4 linked regions of the Homo sapiens genome follow. The protein of the gene in region 3 interacts with the protein of the main gene of each other region in a pairwise test. Each region holds a gene or a part of one and is shown on either strand. Other genes may lie near its edges. The genes, in order: LOXL4, RPE65, CCT6B and MMACHC.

Evidence for each region.
Region 1: the proteins of CCT6B (region 3) and LOXL4 interact in binary tests that used the Homo sapiens proteins (3 or more experiments, as listed by UniProt).
Region 2: the proteins of CCT6B (region 3) and RPE65 interact in binary tests that used the Homo sapiens proteins (3 or more experiments, as listed by UniProt).
Region 4: the proteins of CCT6B (region 3) and MMACHC interact in binary tests that used the Homo sapiens proteins (3 or more experiments, as listed by UniProt).

Annotation. Positions count from the first base shown.
Region 1 is NC_000010.11:98,265,189-98,272,221, reverse strand, and holds the start of LOXL4 (lysyl oxidase homolog 4 precursor), read left to right. Parts: upstream 1-4,027; 5' UTR 4,028-4,090; intron 4,091-4,399; exon of another isoform or gene 4,400-4,591; intron 4,592-6,845; exon of another isoform or gene 6,846-7,033. UniProt on the Homo sapiens protein: Catalyzes the oxidative deamination of lysine and hydroxylysine residues in collagen and elastin, resulting in the formation of covalent cross-linkages, and the stabilization of collagen and elastin fibers.
Region 2 is NC_000001.11:68,439,918-68,446,954, reverse strand, and holds part of RPE65 (retinoid isomerohydrolase), read left to right. Parts: intron 1-94; coding exon 95-245; intron 246-2,071; coding exon 2,072-2,179; intron 2,180-2,282; coding exon 2,283-2,424; coding exon of another isoform or gene 2,425-2,445; exon of another isoform or gene 2,446-4,507; intron 4,508-5,954; coding exon 5,955-6,102; intron 6,103-7,037.
Region 3 is NC_000017.11:34,951,429-34,958,465, reverse strand, and holds part of CCT6B (T-complex protein 1 subunit zeta-2), read left to right. Parts: intron 1-3,866; coding exon 3,867-4,040; intron 4,041-6,412; coding exon 6,413-6,516; intron 6,517-7,037. UniProt on the Homo sapiens protein: Component of the chaperonin-containing T-complex (TRiC), a molecular chaperone complex that assists the folding of proteins upon ATP hydrolysis.
Region 4 is NC_000001.11:45,510,270-45,513,889, reverse strand, and holds the end of MMACHC (cyanocobalamin reductase / alkylcobalamin dealkylase), read right to left. Parts: 3' UTR 2,562-3,620; coding exon of another isoform or gene 2,476-2,561; 3' UTR 508-2,475; downstream 1-507. Other genes in the region: PRDX1 (peroxiredoxin-1), read left to right, coding at 2,476-2,561. UniProt on the Homo sapiens protein: Cobalamin (vitamin B12) cytosolic chaperone that catalyzes the reductive decyanation of cyanocob(III)alamin (cyanocobalamin, CNCbl) to yield cob(II)alamin and cyanide, using FAD or FMN as cofactors and NADPH as cosubstrate.

The sequences.
Region 1 (7,033 bases), on a different chromosome or scaffold from region 3:
GAACTCCGAGGAGTGGAAAGTTGTGAATGCAAACCTGACCTTCCAGGTCTTTCCAAAGGTATATTTGTCAAGGTGGGAGGCTAGACCATGATTGACTTAACAATGGATTCATTTGGTTGATGGCTTTAAAATACTTGACTCATGGCATAAGGCCTCCCTTGAGTCTTGCCCTGGGCCCTGCAAATGCTGGGGTGGGCCTGTCCAGCTCCAAACTTGATTGACTTATGCGGGGTTTCTGAAGCTTTCACAGAACAGGGGAGAGGGTGACTTTGCCTATCACAAACCCAAACTTCCTAGAATTTCTTTTTAACCAGCTCTGCTCTTCCGCCAAATTTCCTCTCCTTACTGCAACCAGCTCATCTCTCCTTTCTCCCTAGAAACCGTATCCTTGACTAGCCCCTCCAGGCTTCCTAGATCCACCCTCCCCACTTCCCCAACTTCATGATCTTACAAAACCCTCTCAGCTCCCATCCTCTCCCTGAACAAAAGCCCTGTTTCTGGATAAACAGCTCTCAACAAAGGAGGAGCCTGTCCTTGGCCAAAATGGCTTGTTCTCCCCATTTGTCCTACTTTCTGTTATTACAATCTACGTTCCATCAAGCTATGTCTTTGAGTCATCTCTCTCACTAGACAGTGAGCTCCTTGAGGGCAAACACTGTGTCTGGTTTGGCTCTGTGACTCTTCCAGCACCTTCTACTTTGAGAGCATTCATGCAAGTTTTCATGGGAGATATCACGGAGGAGTTGGAATCGGAGTTAGGCCTGAAGGGTAGGTAGAATATGGAAAATGAAGTGAGTAGAGGCAACTGGAGATTCCTTCTCTCCTGTGGGCAGTAGTGAGCAATTAAAGATTCTTGAGCTAGAGCAAGACAACACTTTAGAAAGACTGACGTCAGGAACAGTGAGATGCAGGGAAAAACTGAGAGCAGTTTGGGGGCTGTTGCCACAGCACTGAGTGTTAGAGGAGGCAGGAATGCAACGGCAGGACAAATAGATGCAGGAGGCAGTACCTTAGGCACAGCAAAATAACTTACCCGAGGCCACACAATTCAGAAGCAGAGCTAGAACTCAGGTTGCCCAGTTTTAAAGCTGTACAGTTTCCTCCATACTGAGTCACAGAGGAGATGAGGCTAGAACTGAGTCCTGAAGGCTGCTGAGGAGGAAGTTTGCCAGCAGGCATGGGCACTGGGCACTCCACCAGGGTCACTACTGGGTTCAACCAGGTGCACCCTGGAGGCCACCGCTTTCTGCAGGAGATTCTGGCCTTCCCACTTGGGAGGAAAGTACAGACCCTGACTTAGGCAGGAAGGGAGGGTTGAGAAGCACCCCATGGGGAAGAGATTCATGTTAGCTCCTTTCCCTGGGAGGAGGCAGGGAGAGGTGATGCTTACACATCCAAGTCCCTGGGTACTGGCTGAGGGATCAGGGGAGCTGCGGTAACTCCAGACACCTGCATGGTGCTTCACGGCTTCCACAACATCGTAAAGTGTTATTCCTGACCACTCCACTTTCCCCCCTCTCTACCCAGTGTATCAGATCCACCTTCCAAGGCACTTCTGGGAAGGCTTCAACCCTCAGACTTCCCTGCCCAGCATCCACACAGCCCTGTGCTTTCGCCGTCATTGATCACTTGCTCCCATCTGCAGATAACAGCTGTGTGATGTTGGCCAAGTCACTTAACCCCTTTGTGTCCCAGTTTCATTGTGTAAACAGGAGATGATGAAAGCATTGTCCACCGGTTTTTCGACCCCAGCCAGCCATGATGATGATAATGGTGATGATGCCTTGTCCTGCTGGTTGATTGTGGCTCTGTCTCCCCCACCACTCTGCAAATTCCTTGAGGACAAGATAGGAAGCACCTCTGGCTTGTCTGTATCACCTTGGGGACCAGAAACTGGCACGCACCGCTAGGTCCATTTATTCAATCCGTGAGCACTTCTGGAGCACTTGCTATGTGTCAAGCTCTGTGACAGGATCTGGGTTTAGAGATAAATAAGAAGCTCGGGGGTGGGTGGGGGTGTCCAGAGTTAAGGCAGACACAGACCATTATATAAAGAGTATGGAGAGGGTCACAGGCGCTGGGCTGAGGCCGGGTGAACATAGCCAGGCAGGAGGGAAGAAGAGGGCTTTCTCAATCAAATGAAAGCTGATTGAGATGAATCCAGTGGTCCCATCTGACCCCTACAGCAATCACATTTAAGGATGAGGAGATGACAACTCAGCCGAGAAAATCCCACTGTTAGTACGCCATGGGCTGGGGCTGGGACCAGAGCCCCTCACTTCTCAGGGTTGGGGGCTCACAGCGCATGCCTTAGAGATCCCCACTTCCACTGCTTCCCAGCCTTGGCCTCTGCCCAGAGTTGTGCAAATTAAAGGACTTCCGGGCAACATCCATTCATTCCCTGGTCTCTATCCTCCGCCCGCCCCTGCGCTCCAGGGTATTTTTAGTTCTGGGCAGCCAGGCCTGGTGAGTGATTGGCAGCAGGCAGAGCCCACGTTTCCGAACCCTCTGTGTTGCTTCTGGCTCAGCATGAGAGGTGGCTGGGCCCTAGGAGAGGGCTTAGGCATACCTGGCACCCAAGCCCACAGCTGCCTCATTGTCCCTGGGGGAGGAGCTGGGCTGCTGCCACTGACCCGAGGCTGGGAGCATTCTTTCCTGCTGATTCATCATGGGGAATGTTTTGGGCCCAGCTGGGGTGGGGCAGGGGCACTGGGGGGACATCTTGGACACGGGCAGCCAGGAGTGGATGGCAGGTCCCTGGCAGCAGGGTCATTAAGACCTGGCTGTCACCCAGGATCGAAAAGGTCCATCTTGACATCCTAGCTCTATCACACTCTGCCTGTCCAGGCTTATTCTTACTTGCACATCTGCCTCCCCCACCAGACTGGGAAGGCCCCCTCCAGCGTCTAGCACTCCAGCACCCTGTCTAGCATGTAGGAGAAAATCAATAAAGGCTTGTGGGATGAATGAACCTTTGGAAGGACGTTTAGGCAAGGTGGGGGCAAGAGGGGGAACCAGGTTGGGCAGCTGTGGGCCTAGGGAGGAAACCGGGAGGCTGGAACCCTCTGCCCATTTTACAGATGGGGCCAGTGAGGCTAAGGGCAGGACCAGGTCTAGGGGAAAGAAACTGGGGGCTTGGACTGGGGTTCAGGCACCTAGGTGCTCAGTTCAGCTGATGGGACTCCTCTCTGTCAGCCATGTCCACATTTCTTTAATTCTACAGTCCCTGCTCCCTGCACTAACACCCTCCTCCCGTGAGTCTGACAAGGGCCAGGACTGCATCATTCAGCTCTGTGAAGGGGTTCTCCCATTCACTGTGTATTGCCTGGAGGAGCAAGTTATGTCGCCTGGGGCTCAGTGTTCCCAGCTGCACAATGGGCAGCGCAGAGTTTCACACGGAGGGCGGGGGGGGGGGGGGGGGCGGTATTCAGTAAACTCTGGGTGACTCGCCTGTTCCTGCAGGAGAGCACCGCTGCACCGCGCCACCTCGACCTCTCTGAACTGAGCCCCGGCCTCCCAGAAAGGGCGTCTACATTGTCCTAAGTGACCGAGCTCGTGAGATTCGGCCCCTGTGACAGCCGGGCGCTCCCGTGCGAAGGGTGCTGTGCCGGGGGCCCTGGCACCCACCAGGACTCACAGACTGGGACTCTAGGTGGGCGTCATTACCTTGTTCTGCAAAAGAGGAAACTGCCTGGGAGAGGGACTCCCGAGGCCGCCGCGGCCCTCCCTGCAAAACAGCCGCGGGCCCAGCGCCGCCCTTTCCCGAGAGCTCCGCTCCCCGCGACCCCCCGCCGCCCCCCCGCTCCCCCCGCCCCCCGGGACTTCCCGGCCCCGCCGGCTGCGGCTGGGCGCCCCCGCCACCTGGCCTGTGTCCCGACGGGGGGCGCCGCGCGGAAGGCCGGGCGGGGCGCCCGCGGACTCCAGGCCCGCCCGGGGCGGGGCCTGCGGGGCCTCCTCCGCGGCCAGCTCGGGGCTGGGGGGCCGCGGGCGGGAGGCGGATAAAAAGGCCCCAGGGCGCCCGGGGAGGGAGCCCGTTAGCGCTGCTCCGCCGCGGCGCCCGCCCAGCCCCGGACTGTCCGCGCTCCATCTGGTGAGCCCCCGCCTGGCCGCGCGTCTGCCTCTTGGTCTGCCTCTTGCTGTCCCATCTGTCCTTCTGTCTCTCTGTGAGTCTGCAGGCCTCTGAGGGTTCCTGGAGACTGGGCCTAGGGTGCATGGGGGATCCCTTGGACCCTCAGCCCGGCCCTCCAGTCGCTCACCAACCTGCTTCCAACTGGACAAGTGACCACGCTGGGGAGCTTGGCCCAAGGCCCGCCCTGAGTGGTGCGCCCAGGCCTCAGGGGTGCCTGCGTGTCTTGTTTGTGTACACGCCGTGTGTAACCATTGCTCTGCCTTCTTCCAGGGAGGAGACAGGGAAGGGGCAAGGCGGGTTCAGATGTCACACTTACGACTTGGGGGACAACGAACCAGGGCTGATCTGGGCTCTCCAACTATCCAGACCGGAGCTGATTATGTTGGGGGGTCGGCGTGTGACAGAAACACCGAAGGGAAGGGGGCAGAAGACTTCAAGCCCCCTCTTTCCTAGCCTGGACAGGTACAGCTCAGAGACCATTTGTTGGCACTGCTTCAGGTCCACAGAGTCAGTAACCCCGGGGAGGCTACAGGGCTGAGAGGAGGCTGCTGAGAAGAGCTGCCCAACGGCAGAGAAGGGATGAGCCATCCTAAAGTTGCTGCACCCTCAGGACAGCACCCCCCATGCTCTCTCTTGAATACTCGGGCATTTGCTGTCTTCAGCCCTCCCTACCTGCGCTAGGTCAGGCCAGGTCCCAGCATCTCCTGGCACACCTGGAGCAGGTGCCTCTGTGCCTCAAGCTGGCAAGATCTTGGATCTGTCACTCGGCATTCAGCGAAGAGCACCCTGCCCAGTGCCCTCACACCACGGCCTGGGTCATAAATCCACCAGAACAGGGTGGAATTTCAGTCGGCTCCCGGCCTTCCTTTCCTCCTCCCCCTCTTCCAACATCCATTCTTGGTGGTTTTGAGAGTCCGGCGTCTAGCCAGGCTGCTTGGGTTTGAATCCTGGCTGGGCAAGTTACTTGACTTCCCTGGACCTTACCTTCTCATCTGTAAAATGGAGATAAGTATTTAATCCGTATTTTAAAATGTATAGTTATTATCCTCACTTCCCTCCCCTCCTCTTTCCCTTCCACCTTCCTTCCCTCTTCTGTCCCCTTCTCCTTTATTTGGGAAAGTAACGGCCACTTTCGAGGCCGCTTCCTTCTCTGAGGGAGGATGCACAGCTTGGTCCTCTGTGCTCAGTGCTAGGGGAACAGACAGGTGGAGTCTGGTTGTGGGGTCAGGAAGCAAACACACAATGTGCTTTGTGGAAGGCTTTGTGGGAGGGCTTAATGGAGGGGGTGGCATTTGAGCTGGCCTTGTGGGATGTGTAGGAGTTTAACAGTCTTAGATAGAGGGAAAGGAACAGTGAGAGCAAAGGCTTGGAGGCTGGGAGACGAAGGCTATAGTCTGGTGTGAGCAAAAGCTCTCGGGGGCCTATAGTGGGCAGGAAGGCCAATAAGAGGGACTCTCCCTGCATCTAACTCTTGGTTCCCGCTGCCGTCCCCCCACCTTCCAGCAGCGTTCATGGAAGGGAGCTTCCCTGGCCCAGACCCCAGGGTCCTACAGCAGAAGCCCTCCCATGCCCTCAGGTTGGTCCCTTGGAGAGGAAGGAGCTGCTGGCCTGGGACTGTCCACAGCCTGTAACAAGACCTCCTCAGTGTGTCAGGGACTTCAGCCAGGAGCCAAACAGCAGACCTGCCCAGCCTACCCTGGGCCCCATCAGAGCATGTCGGATAGGGGGGCTGTCTAGTGCCACCCCCTCATTTTACAGGTTTTTCAGCTGAGACTCAGAGAAAGGAAAATATTTGACTCCAGACACAATTTGGCGGCAGAGATAGAAGCATTCCAACTCCTGGGGGTGGTAGAGAAGGTGTGGTTGTCACTCAGCCCAGACCCATGTGACCACTGGGTCCTAATAGCTGAGGGACCTGAGGCCGATCTGTCCCATCCTTTCTTGCCATCTGGGGAGTGGTTTGGCTCAGTCCCTGGCTGTCTACCTCCTACTCCAGGGAGCACGGAGGAGGGAATGGGAAACAATGGAGAGCACTCTGCTCATGGGACAGCCAGCTGGGAGCCCCCACAAGCCTCTGAGTGACATGCAGAAGACAGTGTTTCAGTCTGGAAAGGAAGCGTGGGAGGGGTCAGAGGGGGAGAGCTGCAGAGGTGAGAATGGGAAGGCAGCCCCTGCACAGCCTCAGGGAGTGGAGAGGGGAGCATCTAGGCTCTGCAGTGTGGGTGGAGGGAAAAGGGGCAAATCTAGAGAAGGCTGCAAAGAGGAGTACCAAGGACTTGCAGTTGAGATCGGACGTGGCCTCCATTTCCTTCTTTGTACAGAGAGGAGGTGGGACCAATCTAGACCAACGGTTCTATCGTCGCTGTCACAGTAGCTGTTAATAATAGTTCATTGTTGGCCGATGTAGTGGCTCACGCTGGTAATCCCGTCACTTTGGGAGGCCAAGGCGGGTGGATCACCTGAGGTCAGGAGTTCAAGAACTGATGTGGTGAAACCCTGTCTCTACTAAAAATACAGATAAATTAGCTGGGCATGTTGGCGCATGCCTGTAATCCCAGCTACTTGGGAGGCTAAGGCAAGATAATCACTTGAACCCTGGAGGCGGAGGTTGCAGTGAGTCGAGTTTGTGCCATTGCACTCCAGCCTGGGTGACAAGAGCAAAAATCTGTCTCAAAAATAATAATAATAATAATAATAATAATAATAATAATAATAATAATAGTTCATTGTTACTGAAGGCTTGCTCTTCTAAGGATTTAATGTTTCTTCACTTAATCTTTACAAAAATCCTATGAGGTAGTTACTATTATTATCCCCACTTTACAGAGGGAGACACTGAGGCAGGGAGAAACTAAATCGCTGGCCCAAGATCACTTCCAAATGAACTGGTGGAGGCAGGATTCG
Region 2 (7,037 bases), on a different chromosome or scaffold from region 3:
CCCAATCAGGCTGCTGATATACTCTGCCTTACCAAGGACAAGCCTAGCCCAAGGCAGGGATAAGAAGCAATGTTCTGTCTCCCCTTCATCACAGGCAGGATCCCCCTCTGGCTCACCGGCAGTCTCCTTCGATGTGGGCCAGGACTCTTTGAAGTTGGATCTGAGCCATTTTACCACCTGTTTGATGGGCAAGCCCTCCTGCACAAGTTTGACTTTAAAGAAGGACATGTCACATACCACAGAAGGTAAAGCAGCACTCCATGCCACTCCTCCTCCTCAAAGTAGGGCCTAGCTTGGCTCCTCCTCCCATGTGAGTTTTCACCTCTGAACTCAGGAGGCAACCTATATACCCACTTTCTTCTCACAATGTACCTGGGCCAGTGTGTCTGCATGGATACGAGGGAACATTATCATGGAATAAAGGAGAAGCTAAAGCCTAGGGCTTTGGGGTCCAACATGAGTGGCTTTAAACCCTGTATTCAACAGACATGACTTGCCTAGGAGGGTAACCTTGGCAAGATGTTGACCTCCAATTCTTGGTTTTATAATTAGTAAAATGGGAGAAATAATAGAATCTACCTTATATATTCATTACAAGCATTAAATGAGAGCGCAGTGTCTAGCACACACAAAGCACTTCATAATAATAGCTATTGTGATGCTTGTTATTATTATTAAACCATTGGCCATCTTGATTCCTTTTTCTTTTTATAAAATTGGAAAGGCCACTGGGAAAGGGGTCGGGGGCTGCCACAAAGTAGTGAAGGATGAAACATGTCATAGTGCTACCAGAAAGAGAAGTTTTCTGAAAACAAGAGATTATTGCTAAAAAGCCTTGAAGCCCTAAATCATCATTCCAGGAAACCCCCATTAATGAAGTATTAACAAATACTTTGTCTTCTGCTTTCGTGTTCAAGCCTATTAGTGGCTTTGTTGATCACCACAGATTTCAGGCATTTTGAAAAGACCTGTAAAGAAAAAGTGAAAGGGGACTTGAAGCAGGACAACTTGCATGATAATAGAAGAGAAACGGATGATGTCAAGCAGAAATGTAGCCATAAGAGCTTACTGTGGAGTTCAGATAAAGCTTCCTATACCTTCGACAGAGCAGGGTACTCTTTCTTCTTCATAAAAGTGCGACCGGGTGTGGGTGGCTCACATCTGTAATCCCAGCACTTTGGGAGGCCAAGGCGGCCAGATCACTTGAGGTCAGGAGTTTGAGACCAGCCTGGCTAGCATGGTGAAACCCCGTCTCTACTAAAAATACAGAAAAATTAGCCGGGCGTGGTGGTACACGCCTGTAGTCCCAGCTACCTGGGAGGCTGAGGCAAGAGTATAGCTTGAACCCAGGAGGCGGAGGTTGCAGTGAGCCAAGATTGCGCCACTGCACTCCAGCCTGGGCAACAGAGCAAGACTCCATCTCAAATTAATTAATTAATTAATTAATTAAAAGTACAAAATCAGATTTTAACTGGCTCTCCATATCAGAAATCCTGGGCAAAGTATGCTGTCTACTCTAAGATATGGTTTAGCAGACCTGTCTAGGCAAGAGATGGAATTCAAGAATACTTAATTTTTAAAACAAAATAAATGTTAAAATTGAAGAAAAACATAAAAGTAACAGAGGGAGATTGAGAAGAATATAATTCAGCACACCATGTCCGGAATTTTCCCAGTAAGTTTAGGTTGATAGGTTATAGGTGATGGGGGTGGGGGTCCTATGTGAACTTCCCCCAGGGCTGCATGGTGTGATATAGAAAGTTCATGTTGTCCTGCTCTGGCCAACTAGGATTCTAACCCAGCTTGGCCACATATGCCAATCACTTAACTCCTCTGAACCTCAATTTCCTCATCTGTGAGGTTTAAAAGATAAAAACGTAAACTCAAGGGACATTGTGTCTGCCCTGCTTGGTCACCCCAAGAAAGTGAGCTAATAAAACCCTTTATTCTTCATGTTGTGCATTTATGATTGTGACTTGATGAGGACACATAGAATGGCCATTCTAAGCTCCACATGGGCTGTACGGATTGCTCCTGTCTATACTCTTCCCTATGTTTCAATGTCCTTCAGGTTCATCCGCACTGATGCTTACGTACGGGCAATGACTGAGAAAAGGATCGTCATAACAGAATTTGGCACCTGTGCTTTCCCAGATCCCTGCAAGAATATATTTTCCAGGTTACTGAACCCAAACTGAATGTTACTCAAGACATTTTATATTAGCCCTTTTTCTCTCATGGCTTGAAAATTACTGGACTGAAAAATTCATTTGTTTCTACAGGTTTTTTTCTTACTTTCGAGGAGTAGAGGTTACTGACAATGCCCTTGTTAATGTCTACCCAGTGGGGGAAGATTACTACGCTTGCACAGAGACCAACTTTATTACAAAGATTAATCCAGAGACCTTGGAGACAATTAAGCAGGTGGGACACAGTGCTAGGTGATGTTCAGGAATTTAGAATTTGGAACTTAAAATTAATTCAACATAAATTATTCATGCTGCGAATGTATGATTCTAACTTGATGAGGACACACAGAATGACCATTCCAAGCTCCAAATGGACTGCACTGATTGCCTCTGTCTATGATGCTTTCCTGCAATTGGTGTAATTTGGTGAAAAGAACATGAGAGCCACATTAAGTTTCAAATCCTAGCATTGTCAACAATGACTAGCTATTTGACATAGGACAAACATTGTTTCTTCATCTCTAAAATTTTAAACACTTACATGGATTGGAGAGAACCCATATAAAATGCCTAACATATTCATTCATTCATTCATGACACAAATACTTATCAAGTGCTTTCCATATTCAGAATTTATGCTAGATGCAAGGGATAGATCAATGAGTAGGGTAACATGGTCCCTGCCTTTCATAGCTTTTATAAGCTAGCATGAACCTGGTAAATACTGGGTGCTCAAAAAATTATAGCTACTGATACTGAAAATCATGCTATTTATGGTTCTAGGCAAGTATGTTGCACTAATTTGCCCCTTCTTATAGATACTTCTTATTAGAAATAAAGCTATATCTTGAATGAAATAGCATAGAACAAAATTTCAGCAATATTTGGAAGTGACAAATTTTATGGAGAACTTAGGGAATCTCAATGCAGCAGTCCTTAGATACACATTTTGAACCAATATTTACTAAGATACACCTATTTACAAGGCATTGTTCTTGTCTTCAGGTGACTTAATGTCTAGGTGGAGAAATCAAATATGTAACTGTAATAGGACAAAGAATATGACGAGTCTTTTAAGAAGGAAAATCTTTTAAGAAAGCATAAATACGAAAGGAATTACTTCTGGAAGTAGTTGGCAATGCAAGGTGGGACAGGTGAAAGAAGGCTTAAAGGGAAAGGCTTTGGGCTGGAAGTTAAAAGAGAGGGATGATTTCAGTGAATTTAGAGAAAGGATATGCTAGATGGAGGGGGTAAAGCGATCAAAAGCATGGAGGTAGAAGGTGTTCATGAAAACTGGAGAATAATCTCCTTGGACTAGACTTGCAGCATTTCTCAGTGGAGGTATTAGTATGACATTAGGCAGGGGGTGACTCATCATCATGGAGACGTCCCACACATGGGAGAGGTTTGGCATCCCTGGCCTCATCCACTAAACACCAGTCATGTTTTCAATCATTATACAAACCCAAAACGCTCCTGACATTTCCGTATCTTCCCCTAGGGGGCAATAACACTCCCAGTTGAGAACTAGTTGCCTAGAGTAGTTAATGTCAAGGGGAATATTGAGACACAGGGTAGGATGAAATTAAAAGCTTGAATAATTGGCTATACATTTGGAATATGTTGTTTAGCTAATGGGAAGCTACTGAAAGTTTTTGCTCAAAGAAGTAGTATGAGTAGGGCTATATTTTCAGATGTTTATTTGGGGAGCCATGTGTGGGCTGTACGGGAAGGCAAAAGAGATACAGTATAGCTGGGAGACCAAGAGGTGAAACTAAAAGCCAGAACCACAAATGCAGTACTGGTAAAAATAAGAAGAAAAAAAATAGTCTCAACATTGAGTCTCAATAGCACAAGCTGATCTATAATTCTCAACAGACTATTTACTATGTCTTAACATACACTCCCCATAGCTCTTTCTTGTTTATGTTGTGTGTGTGTAACCATATACAAGTGTGTGTGTAGCTCCTTTAGAGAAGAACAAAAGCTGAGTTTCTAAATCATTCATTTGACTTTGATAGGGAATCTGTATTACAATTACATGATATTTTAATTAGAAATATAGAAGCTATGGTATGGCTGCAGAATAGACTTTATTAGGAGTCAGGTTCCACTGTTACTAGCACTGTAAAATGTAATTTTAAAAATGTGAAATTTTTGATTGTTTACTGTTATTAACCAGTGCCTTTGCCTCCAGCCTGATTCCCTTAAATACAATTTATTTAAGGCAGCAGTAGCAATTTTTTAAAATATAAATATGAAAGTATTACTCCACCTAGGGAATCCATAACTTCCCAAATAAAGTCCAAGCGAAGGTCTTTGTGGCTGGCCCACTCTTATTTCGCCTCCTCTACGCATGCCCTTCATGGCAGCCAGGTTAAATGACTAGTAATGGCCAAACAGCACACATTATTTCACAAGTCTATGCATTTACATTAGGATTCCCACTCCCTGGAATACACTGTCATCCTGCTCCACTTGGCTAACTCCACGCACCTTTCAAACATTAGTTGGAGTCATGTTTCTCAGGAAAACTGCCTCATCCCTCAGTCTGGGCTAGATGGCGCTTCTCTACGATGCCATTGCACACTCACAGTGCTTTACACCGGCTTATTGGTCTAATGCAGGGCTGTCCAATAGAACTTTCTGCAATAATGGAAATGCTCTATAACTGTGCTATCCTGGTGTTATTAAGCACTTGAAATGTGGCTAATGTGACTGAGGAGCTGAATTTGAAGTTCTATCTAAAAATTAGTGGTCCTGTATTAATAGAACAGCACGGGTCTAGAATGAAGTTCTTGAAAGCAAAGATCTTCTCTCTCCTGAGCCCTGATACAGTGCCTGGCACATAGTGAAAGCTCAGAGTATTTGATAAATGATTGACTGAATAAATGAATATCTTGCCTATTATTTAAATAAGGTTGCTAAAATGTCCTATGCTTTAAAAAAATCTCCCTAATTAATTGGAAATAATTTTGGTTAGATAAATATATATTCCAGTAATTATTCATTCAATAACTCTTTACCAAGTAGGTCCCAGGTGGAAATCTAGTGCTGATTTATCTAGCTCTTTATCCTTAAACAAGACACTTGATCTCTCTGGAACCCCAATTTATCCTTCTGCAAACAGAGATTTGTGTTACATTTGTAGTTCTAAACTTCTTATGAGACATAAAATTGAATTAAATGCTGTATGCTTTTGCCAGAAATGTTTATATTTAATTAAAAGAGATCCATGGTTCTCCTAAAGTCTATTTAAATTAAGACTTTCTATACTAGATGAAGCTTGAAGTCCCTTTCAGTTCCAAACTCATACAGTACCATGTGCAAGACATATAGTTGGTATTTACATAGTACCATACGAAATTGACATTTTTGGAAATCAGCAATTATTAAATGTTAGCAATCTTATACAATTAAATCTAATACAATAATAAGAGTATAAAGAAGTCTGAGGACTCAAACTTATGGTTTCAGGTCAATCTGCATATGCTAAAAGAAAAGTAACTAACCAGAGCACTGTATGGTATACATCAAATAAAGAGATGTCACAGGTAACTCCAGATTCAGACACATGAGGGGGCATTATGTTCTGCATGAAGGTGGGAACTCAAGGTGAAAGAGGGTAGAATCCAGAGAGATGGGAAGAAAGAGAAGTGCACTTAGGATGAGAGTTCAAGGGGTAGTGATGACCTCAGACCTAGGGACAAAGGTATAATGTATCTTCCTTCTCTCAACTGGAGGACATTCACTTTACTTCCGTAGGTTGATCTTTGCAACTATGTCTCTGTCAATGGGGCCACTGCTCACCCCCACATTGAAAATGATGGAACCGTTTACAATATTGGTAATTGCTTTGGAAAAAATTTTTCAATTGCCTACAACATTGTAAAGATCCCACCACTGCAAGCAGGTGAGTTTACCAATCTGTCCTCTTCTGAAAATAAGTGTCTATATTGTGAGAAAGTTACTGTATTGTGAGAAAGATAAGAATGTCAGAATAGCATTTTGTGCATAGTTAAATTACTCTCAGACTTCAGAAGTACTGCCCTCATCCCTACCCTATAAGGGGCCTAATGCCCAAGGGCATCATATCAAAGGATGACGACTTGAAAATATAGAAAGCAAGTGTCCAAGTTCTCTTCTAGAATATTAAAAATGTAGTACATATATATATATGGATTTGATCATATACAATTAGGATTCAAACTTAGCAAACATTTATTGAGCACTTATTCATGTGCTAGGCAAAATTAAATTAAATAAGCATGTATGTGTGCATAATAGCATACATACATATATGAGAGTGTACTAAATATGTTGCGCTTAATTCCCAAAACTACAAACAAATCTGTTATCTCATAGAAGTACTATAGAAAAAGAACTACAGCAAAAAGAGTGTACCCTAGAATTCTCCATTCATTCTTCATTTATTGCCAGGTTCATTGTTCACCACCTTGATGATGGAATTATTTGAATGTATACAGATTTTTGTTTAGTATTATTTAGTACAGTTCTCAAAGTGTAGTCCTTGGACCAAGACCATCACCTAGGAAACTGTTAGAAATACAAATCTTGAGCCTTGTCCTGGGCAGACTGAATGAGAAATTTTGGGAGTGGAGCCTGCAATCAGTATTTTAAGAAACTCTTTATGTGATTCTGATGCACACTAAAGTTTGAGGACCATTCACTTACTAGTGAGTAAATTTTAATGTGCATAAGAATTACTGTACAGGGCTATTGACACAAACCCATCTAAACTATATCCTTTGGGCATCTTAAGATGTTGCAAAAGGCATTTTGACCATTCTGAGGTTTCTTCCCTACTCCCCTGACTTAAAACCCACC
Region 3 (7,037 bases):
AATTAATTAATTAATTAATTTTGAGATGGAGTCTCACTGTGTCGCCCAGGCTGGAGTGCAGTGGCAGAATCTTGGCTCACTGCAACCTCCGCCTCCCAGGTTCAATCAATTCTCCTGCTTCAGCTTCCCGAGTAGCTGGGATTACAGGCATGCGCCATCATGCCTGGCTAATGTTTGTATTTTTTTTAGAGACAGGGTTTCACCATCATGGCCAGCCTGGTCTTGAGCTCCTGACCTCAGGTGATCCACCTGCCTGGGCCTCCCAGAGTGCTGGGATTACAGGCATGAGCCACCGTGCCTGGTCTAGACAGTTAATTTTAATTAAGATATTCTTGGACAATTATAAATGGAAATAATAATGAACTTTGTTGGCCAAAATAATGCCTTTCGTTGGAATTATATACCTCTTTTAAAAATGAAATATTTAACGGACCTAAAAAAGTAAAAAATTACCCATGTATCCATGGGTAATTAAGAAAGAAAACACCATAGATAAAGTTGAAACCAAATTATGCACCTTTATAAAACCACTGGAGAAAAATTATTGAAGGTTTTACTTATTGTGAATTTACCTTCCTTTCTAGTTTCATTTTCTTTATAAATCATCTACTTCAGCCAGACTCCTCCGTTCACTGGCCTCTGAAAACATCATGTACATTTTTACCTTTCTCTAATTAAGTATCTCTTTTCTCCATATCTGAATGTTTTCTCTCTTTCAGGGACCATTTCAGCAAAGAGTAACCTAGTCAAAATGATTCTCTGTGTTTCGTTTAGTATTGGGAATTTTCTATTAATTCAGTACTTGCAACTTAGGATGCTTTTGGCTGTAAACAACTTGACTAAAACTCACTTGAACAATAAGGAAATGATTATCTCCCATAATAGAAAATTGAGAGATAAGGGAGACTGTCAGGTTGTGTGATAACAAAATTCAGTCATCAAGTACACAGGTTCTTTGTCTCTTACCTCTTCCACTCACAGTGCTGTTTCATCCTAAGAGTATTTCCATCTTGAAAGTAAGAGGCCAGGTGCGGTGGCTCACACCTGTAATCCCAGCACTTTGGGAGGCCGAGGCAGGTGGATCACCTGAGGTCGGGAGTTCGAGACCAGCCTGACCAACGTGGAGAAACCCTGTCTCTGCTAAAAATACAAAATTAGCCAGGCGTGTTGGTGCACGCCTGTGATCCCAGCTACTCAGGAGGCTGAGGCAGGAGAATTGCTTGAACCCAGGAGGTGGAGATTGCAGTGAGCCAAGATTGTGCCATCATACTCTAGCCTGGGCAACAAGAGTGAAACTCCATCTCAAAAAAAAAAAAAAAAAATGGAAAGAAAAAGGAAAGAAAAAGAAAGTAAGACTGGCTGGGCACAGTGGCTCATGCTTGTAATCCCAGCACTTTGGGAGGCTGAGGCAGGAGGATCACTTGAGCCCAGGAATTTGAGACCAGCCTGGGCAACATAGTGAGACCCTGTCTTTAGAAATAATAAAAAAAAATTAGGCTTGGTGGCATGCTGCATGTGGTCCTGGCTACTTGGGAGGCTGAGGCAGGAGGATTGCCTGAACCCAGGAGGTGGAGGCCGCAGTAAGCCATGATTGCACCAGTGTACTCCAGCCTGGGTGACAGAGTGAGACCCAGTCTCTAAAAGAAAGAGAGAGAGAGAAGAGAGGAGAGAGGAGAGAGAGGACAGAGGAGAGCGAAGAAAGACTGTCAGAGGAAATTAGGCAGAGGGCAAGATAAAGCCATTCAGGAGGCTTTTCTTTAGTATGATTGGGCCAACTTTAGTATTATGTCCATCCCAAGCCAGTAACAGTTTTTATGGGAATTGACTTAGACTAATCAGGATCCACTCCTTGAGCTGGGGATAAGATCAGCTTTCTCCAAAGCACAAGTGGGAGAGGGAAACCCAAACTGAATTAGGGTTGGGTTAGGAAGAAAGGAGTTTGGCAAGGGTGAGATGCTAACAGACATTATGAAACTCTGTGGTGGTGCAGTGATAGAGCCGGGCACAGTATATGATGGAATCACTGAGGCTGGAGGGACGTCCTAAACTAGCCTGAAGTAGTCAGGAAGAACTCTCTGGAGGAAGTAAGGCCTGGCCTAAATCTTCAGGATGAGGAGGAGTGAACCAGACAAAAGAGCAAGGGGTGAGGAGAATGGCTTTCCAGGCAGAAGGAACAACATAAGCAAAGTCACAGAGAAGACAAGCAACATGGTGTTGTATGAAGCTACAAGCATTTTGGTGTTGCTGGAATTTCAGGTGATGTGAACAGTAGTGGAGAAGAGGCTGGAGAGGGAAGTGGGAGCCAGATCAGAGGGCATGTAGTATGCTAACCAAGAAGCTTAGATTTCATCCAGTGGTATTACAGACCAAACATAGAAACATACTAATGACTGATATGGTCAGGTTGGCATTTTAAGTATTTGGGGGATGGTTTTAAGGGAGTCTAGACCAGAGGTTTTCATGATAGTCTGGATGAGAGATTGTGGGGTCCTAGCTTGAAGACATTTTTGAAAATGGTTAATAACATAGGCTCTAAAGTCAGGTCTCATGGGTTTAAACAACCTGGTTTCACTTCTTATTATCTTGGTGATCTAAGGCAAATTACATTATCCCTTTAAGCCTCGGTCTTCTCATCTGTGAAATAGGAAAAATAATAATAATAATACCCACTTCATGATGTGGCTAGAGAATTAAATAACTTGTGTAAAACTCTTAGTCATGTCCAGCACAAATACTCAATGTCAACTTTTAAAGATTATTAAGGATTGATGTAAAGAAAAGTAGTAAGGGAATGAATTAGACCAAGTGCTAGCTTTCACAAAGTTTGTGTATTATTTTATGGAACAAAAAATACTATTAAAATATTTTTTCATAATTTTAGACCTATAGAAAAGTTGCAAACATACTACAAAGAATTCCTGTATACTTTTTACCCAGATTCTTCAAGCATTTTCATTTCTCTCATTGCCTGCTTGCCCTGTTCTCTTCCTTAGTATCAGTGTACTTATTCTTTTCTAAACTGTATGTTGCAGACATGATCTAAATATTTCAGTGTATATTTCTTAAAACCAGGGAATTATATAATTGCAGTATAGTTATAAAAACCAGGAAATTAATAATAACATTAACACATTGATACATTACTGTTATCTAATCTGCATTCTATTCAAACTTCACCACTTATATTAATAGTGCTCTTTATAGAAAAAAAAGATCTAAGTTCATGCATTGCACTCAGTTGTCGTGTTCCTTTAGTATCCTTTAAGCTAGACTAGTTCCTGAGCTGCCTTTTATGCTTCATGATATTGCTACTTTTAAGCCATTTATTTTGTAGAAAGTCCCTCAGTGTGGATTTGCCTATTTCCTCAATTAAACTTAGGTTACAGATTGTTGGCCAAAATACCATAGAACTGTTGTGTTCTACTGAATGCATCATGTCAGCAGGCATGTGATGCCTGTCTGTCTCATTATTGTGATGTTAACTTTGATCACTTGGTGAAGTGGTAGACACCACAGTGTTCTATCTGCCACTTTTCCCCAATTCAGTGGTGGTTCTTTTCCTCTGCATTGAAAGGAATCTTTTTATGTGTGCCCATTCAGAAGGGCACCACATAACAACAATGTAGTCATAATTTTTGGAAATAAAAAGGACTTCTGTAATTTTTAATACTAGACTTGAAGCCTTACTGTTAAGGTTGAGATTATTTCAAGTATGAAGCACTAAAATGACTTTTATAAATTATGTACACTTATATTTCATGGCATTAATGTGAGTAACTTTTTTTGAACATAATAATCAGACAGGTTGGTTACTTTTACATTGGGTGACTTATTTTATAATTTATAATTTTATGTTGATGTAACAGGGCCTGCACCCTAGAATAATAGCTGAAGGATTTGAAGCTGCAAAGATAAAAGCACTTGAAGTTTTGGAGGAAGTTAAAGTGACAAAGGAGATGAAAAGAAAAATCCTCTTAGATGTAGCTAGAACATCATTACAAACTAAAGTTCATGCTGAACTGGCTGATGTCTTAACAGAGGTATGTTATTAAACTTTTGCATTCAGAACAAATATAGCCTAATGCATGGTGATATTTTTCTTTTTCTGTAAGATAATCAAGTATTTCATGTGGTTTTTTGGGCATAAAATATGGAAGACAGACAATTATTGTATAGGCCTAACTGTAGATTAGATTTGACTGGTCAGAACAGTATTTGTAATTTTCAGAAGTATCATACTAGGCCTTTTTTTAAACGTGACTTGAAAGGTGGGAGAGGTTTGGCTGCCTGCAGATCATCTCCTGTGGAAGCTCTTGAATAGTATACTGGTCTTTTTAAATCTAGCAGTCCATATTTTATTATGTGAGGTGACACACAAGATAGTTGTTTTAGCAGTGTACCTTGTAGATAAGGTTACCAATATAATGAAATGTGATATGATATATTAATATATTAATATTCACATATTGGAAATGTATGTTTGTTTAGTTTATTTCTTTTATTAATTTATTTGAGACAGAGTCTTACTCTGTCACTCAGGCTGGAGTGCAGTGTCATGATCTCAGCTCACTGCAACCCCCGTCTCCCAGGTTCAAACGATTCTCCTACATCAGCCTCCCGAGTAGCTGGGATTACAGGCGCGTGCCACCACGCCTGGCTAATTTCTGTATTTTTAGTAGAGATGGGGTCTCACTATGTTACCAAAGCTTGTCTTGAACTCCTGACCTCAAATGATACACCCACCTCGGGCTTCCAAAGTGCTGGGATTACAGGCATGAAGTCACCACATCTGGCCAGTGTTTTGTTTATTTCTAAAGGTAGAATATATGTTATATAGGCTGGGCATGGTGGCTCATGCTTGTAATCCCAGCACTTTAGGAGGCCGAGGTGGGGAGACGACCTGAGGTCAGGAGTTTGAGACCAGCCTGGCCAACATGGTGAAATCCTGTCTGTACTCAAAATACAAAAATTAGCTGGGCATGTTAGCAGGCACCTGTAATCCCAGCTACTTGGGAGGCTAAGGCAGGAGAATCACTCTGGGAGGGAGGGGGAGGTTGCAGTGAGCTGACATCATGCCATTGCACTCTAGCCTGGGTGACAGAGTGAAACTTTGTCTCAAAAAAATATATATATATATATATATATATTTTATATAAAGACAAGATTGGCTGGATATTTTGGGAAGGCTTTTATCAGGTGGCAATGATTTGATATCATTATTGTTTTTCAGCTTTGTAATTTCTGAAACTTGAATATATTTGTTTACCAGGAAGAATGATAAATTCTTAGGAAACAAATTCACAAGACATTGACATACAAAGCAGAATACTACCTTAATAATTTACTTTGAGAACTACAAATGCCAAATGTACTGGAATACTTGAGTTGTTTCTGATCGATTCTCCTTACCGTTAAAAAAAAACAACTTGGGAAATCAGATTAAGATCAGACAATTTCTTGATGAGCAGAGTCAGAAGAAAGGCTCTGCTGTGTTTTCTGCTGTTAGAGTACTTGAATGGCCCCAAATCTTCATGCTGCTAGGGCACCCATTCTGTTTTAGAGTTACAGAAACAGTGATATTCTCACTATCCAATGGCCTTTGTCCTATTTCTTATTTGCCTCTAAAATAAAATATTATGTCACCTCAGGCAAAGTTTTCTAAGATACAGTTTTTTCTGCTTTATGTATATTTTAGGGTAGTTATAACTTAGCCCTTAATTTCTGCAGTTATTTATTATTTTTATATCATTTTCTGAGCTAAGCAATAAGACGTGTTGTGCTATGCTTCTTAAATTGTATATCCCTGGTCATATGTGACAGAATAAATGAGACGTAGCTTTCTGGAGTGTCAATTTTACTTTACAATTTTGGGGGAAAACATTATTTTTACATTGAGATAAACATATTATGGGATGACATGGAAACTTTTCACGATAAAACATGAGACTTTAACGTTTCCTGTTATTACAGCCAGCAAATTGGAGCTATTACCTTAGATTACCTTTCCTTCTTTTCCATTAAGGTGTCCTTTGGTGGAAAAGTTTGGATAGTCTTGGTATGATAGAAAGAGTAGTCGCTGGGCAGTTAGGGAGCCCTGAATTCTAGTCCCGGCCCTGTTACTAGCTGTTAGATCTTATTTAAAAACTGTGACTTCTTAAGGTCTTATCTCAGTTGCCTTATCTGTAAAATAAAAGGTTTGGACCTAATGATCTCTGAAGTTTCTTTAGACTCTAAAGTGTCTGTTGGCATTGGCTATTGTTAGCATCCATAGTAAAGTGGCACATATTGGTCTTGCCCTAGGTTTTGAATCCTGAAGGCTTTTATCTCCTTAGTCTGGTGATAGATTGTTTGGGCCCTTGGTTTATTTTAGTAGTCCAAATAACTTAACTGTTCTCATTCATTTCTCTTTCAGGTTGTGGTGGATTCTGTTTTGGCTGTTAGAAGACCAGGTTACCCTATTGATCTCTTCATGGTAGAAATAATGGAGATGAAGCATAAATTAGGAACAGATACAAAGTAAATTACATAAGCTTTGACAACATATGGGTTCTAGAATTTTTTAAAGATATTCTTTTATTAAATTCATTACTTACTTTTATTCAACATAAATATATTCATTCACCATATATTAAGTCACTGCTCTAGGTAATGGGAATGAGAGTAAACAGAACAGAATTTCTTTCCCCAAGAAGTTTATGTTTCTAATTGAAATAGAAAAAAAATCATGTGTGTGATTTTATAGTGGACAGGGAAGACTACTCTGATAAGAACCTGGAGAGCTAAGAGGTCTCTGAAGAAACAAGGGAGCTAGCCATGTGCACATCTGGAATAAGAGGGTTCTAAGCAGAAGGAATGACCTCTGAAAGGGTCCTGAGGCAGAAGTGTGACTAGGTTGTTACAGTGTGCCTGGAGCACAGGGAGAGGAGGTGAGGCAAAAGGGACCAGATTATGGAGTACCATGTTGATTTTGGATTTACTCTTTTAAAACTTTGTATTATAGAAAACTGTGAACATATATAGAGAGAACAGAATAGGGA
Region 4 (3,620 bases), on a different chromosome or scaffold from region 3:
CCACGAGGCCATATTTCAGACTATCACATGGGGAGAAACCTTGGACAATACCTGGGTTTCCTAGGCAGAGGTCCCTGTGGCCTTCCGCAGTGTTTGTGTCCCCGGATACTTGAGATTAGGGAGTGGTGATGACTCTTAAAACGAGCATGCTGCCTTCAAGCATTTGTTTTAACAAAGCATATCTTGCACAGCCCTTAATCCATTTAACCCTGAGTTGACACAGCACATGTTTCAGGGAGCACAGGGTTGGGGATAAGGTTACAGATTAACAGCATCTCAAGGCAGAAGAATTTTTCTTAGTACAGAACAAAATGGAGTCTCCTCTGTCTACTTCTTTCTACACAGAGACAGTAACAATCTGATCTCTCTTTTCCCCACAGTGGTAGAATGGGAAAGATAGTAGGAACAGAAGCTACCAAATAAGAAAATGGGTATCTCTCTTCATAAATTGAAGCCCCTGGATTACAGTGTGTTGTGAGGGTGAGGGTAATGGAAAAGCTTGGGAAGGAGAATATAAAGGCTTTTTATTCAAAGTATACATACTCCTCTCTTCTGTCCTGCTCATTTAGAATCAGTCACTCCCAAAGATCTAACTTACTGAATGTAGGATGATCTCACAGATGTATTAGGGCAAAACAAAATGGTTGGGAATCACCTCTAGAGATAAAGCATGCCATTTTTTAAATAACTTTATTGAGAGAAGAGGTTAATCCATATAGTTCATATTTTTATTTATTTATTTATTTTTTGCAAGATGGAGTCTTGCTCTGTTGCCCAGGCTGGAGTGCAGTGGCGCAGTCTTGGCTCACTGCAACCTCCGCCTCCCCTGAGCCATTGCGCCCAGCCCAGACTAGCTTTCTAAGGCCTATTTCAGCTCTGATCTTGTAATTTAAAGGAAATGAAGTTATTAGAGTCTGGATTAGTGGTGTATGTTTGGGAAGACCCAAAGGTGCTAGCTTGGCTAGCACCAAGTAATCTTTTTACAGGGATTAGAGTCTGATTATATAGGGATCAGTGAGCACTGATAACCAAGAGGTACCCTTTGCAGAAGGATGTGTGGGCAGTTAGCCTGGACAGATGACACATGGCTCAGCTGACACCTGCTGAGACTGCCCCCTTGTGGGAGATGAGGTTCAGCATTAAGAAGGAGGCAGCAGTGGCAAAGTAGGCCCTTTAACTGGACTTTCCTAGGAACCTACATATAGGTTAGTCTCCTGAACCCAGGCTTTCATAACTCAGAAGCTTGCTTCTTCAGACTCTGTTGGTCTCTGCTGCTTCCCATCCCACTGGAACATGTACAGCCTCTTAAATAGGTACCATTTAAGAGCCAATGAATGCCAAACACTTTTTTTTTTTGAGACAGAGTCTTGTTTTGTCGCCCAGACTGGAGTGCAGTGGTGTGATCTCAGCTCACTGCAGCCTCCACCTCCTGGGTTCAAGTGATTCTCTTGCCTCAGCCTCCTGAGTAGCTAGGACTACAGGGGTCCACCACCACGCCCCACTATTTTTGTATAGTCCCAGCTACTCGGGAGGCTGAGGCAGGAGAATGGCATGAACCCCGGAGGTGGAGCTTGCAGTGAGCTGAGATCGCGCCACTGCACTCCAGCCTGGGCGACAATGTGAGACTGTCTCAAAAATTAGCCAGGTGTGGTGGTGGGCGCCTGTAATCCTAGCTATTTGGGAGGCTGATGCAGGAGAATCGCTTGAACCCGGGAGACCGAGGTTGCAGTGAGACGGAGGTGGAGATTGCGCCACCGTACTCCAGCCTGGGCAACAGAGGGAGACTCCATCTCAAAAAAAAAAAAAAAAAAAAAAAAAAAGAAAAATAAGAGATTAGTCCCCTTGCCTCATTTTCTTCAGGCTAGCCTGAGGCACATTCTTAGGCATTGTCAGGAAAAGGTTGAAGGCTGTGCTTTCTGTATAAATCTATGAAAAATTTCAAACTCTGCCTTTTGCTTACCAAGGGGTAGATGGCAGTTACTTAATGAAACAAGCGGGGGCTTCTGTTAAGTTCTTGATCCTTTATAAGGTTCAGGCTATCCAGTTTGGTAGAGTTAGAAGAATGCTGAGAAGGCAGACTGAGTTTGCTGTCTTCAGAGCTCTGAAGGGCTGTCAGAAACAGTTTAGTGTTAAGGGTTTACATAGTCCTATGTGTGTCGTTTATTTAGCTTTTTTTTCCCCTTAAGGATTAGAGAGTGTTGGCAAATTATTTAAACTTTGCCTTTTTTTGTGGAAAATTTAAATTTCAAGTGCTACATGAATAAATTAGGCATGATAGTATCTTAAGGCTGTGGTGATGATTATATGTTTGTAAAATGGTTAGCTCATACTAAAAGGGTGAATGATCTAAGACTGATTGCAGGGGTAGGTTTCCTGGTATCTGAGTGTTCAGGTGCAGAACTGGTTTTGTCCATAGGAGAATGGTGGTGCATACCATTGAGAAGGTTATTAATTAGTGGTGCCTTTCTCTTGCAGTGTGCCCAGCTGGCTGGAAACCTGGCAGTGATACCATCAAGCCTGATGTCCAAAAGAGCAAAGAATATTTCTCCAAGCAGAAGTGAGCGCTGGGCTGTTTTAGTGCCAGGCTGCGGTGGGCAGCCATGAGAACAAAACCTCTTCTGTATTTTTTTTTTCCATTAGTAAAACACAAGACTTCAGATTCAGCCGAATTGTGGTGTCTTACAAGGCAGGCCTTTCCTACAGGGGGTGGAGAGACCAGCCTTTCTTCCTTTGGTAGGAATGGCCTGAGTTGGCGTTGTGGGCAGGCTACTGGTTTGTATGATGTATTAGTAGAGCAACCCATTAATCTTTTGTAGTTTGTATTAAACTTGAACTGAGACCTTGATGAGTCTTTATTTTAGGAAGCATATTATTAGCTTTTGATTTTAAGAGGAATTTACTCCTTGCTTTCCCTGTTTTGGGGAAAATGAGGAGAGCTGCCTCCAAATCAGGGAATTATATTGACACAGGTAGATATAGGGAATGGAACTGAATGAACCCAAGGTGTTACATTTTGTTTCACTACACATGAGGGAGAAGAATAAGCCCTGCTATAGTGTTGGCCAGAGCACTGCGACTGACGCCACAGGCTGGGTTACCAGTTAAAGTCTCAGTGTGACTACTTGGACACCTATTTTTGTTTAGACACACTATTCAAAGGGCTGCATGGGAACCAGAAGCTTGGCCTCTTCTGATAAATGCCTGGTACCTGCTATGTAAAAGAGCTGGAGGTTTCTGTTCTTTTTGAACTGACAGAGGAAAGAGGAAGACAAGGCTGGTGGCCTTGGGTAGGGCTTTCGTAGTTGCACAGTACTGGGCAATTCTTAGCCTTCCCTTGGTTCTAGCCTTGATTAGAGATAGTCTTTTTTAGTGTCATTATGTTGCCCAGAGTGGTTCTGAATTCCTTGCCTCAGGCGGTCCTCCGCCTCAGCCTCCCAAAATGGTGGGATTACAGGTGAGCGCCACAGTGCCTGGCCAAAGCTCGTTTTGATCCTCATTCATATGTCATTGTCCTCAGAGAGGCTGTCAGCTGGGAAAAGTTATTCTCCTGGGCCCTTGAGGCCAAGGTAGATTCAGAACTGAGGATACTTCTGTGTATCATGTGATACCATTCCAGCCAC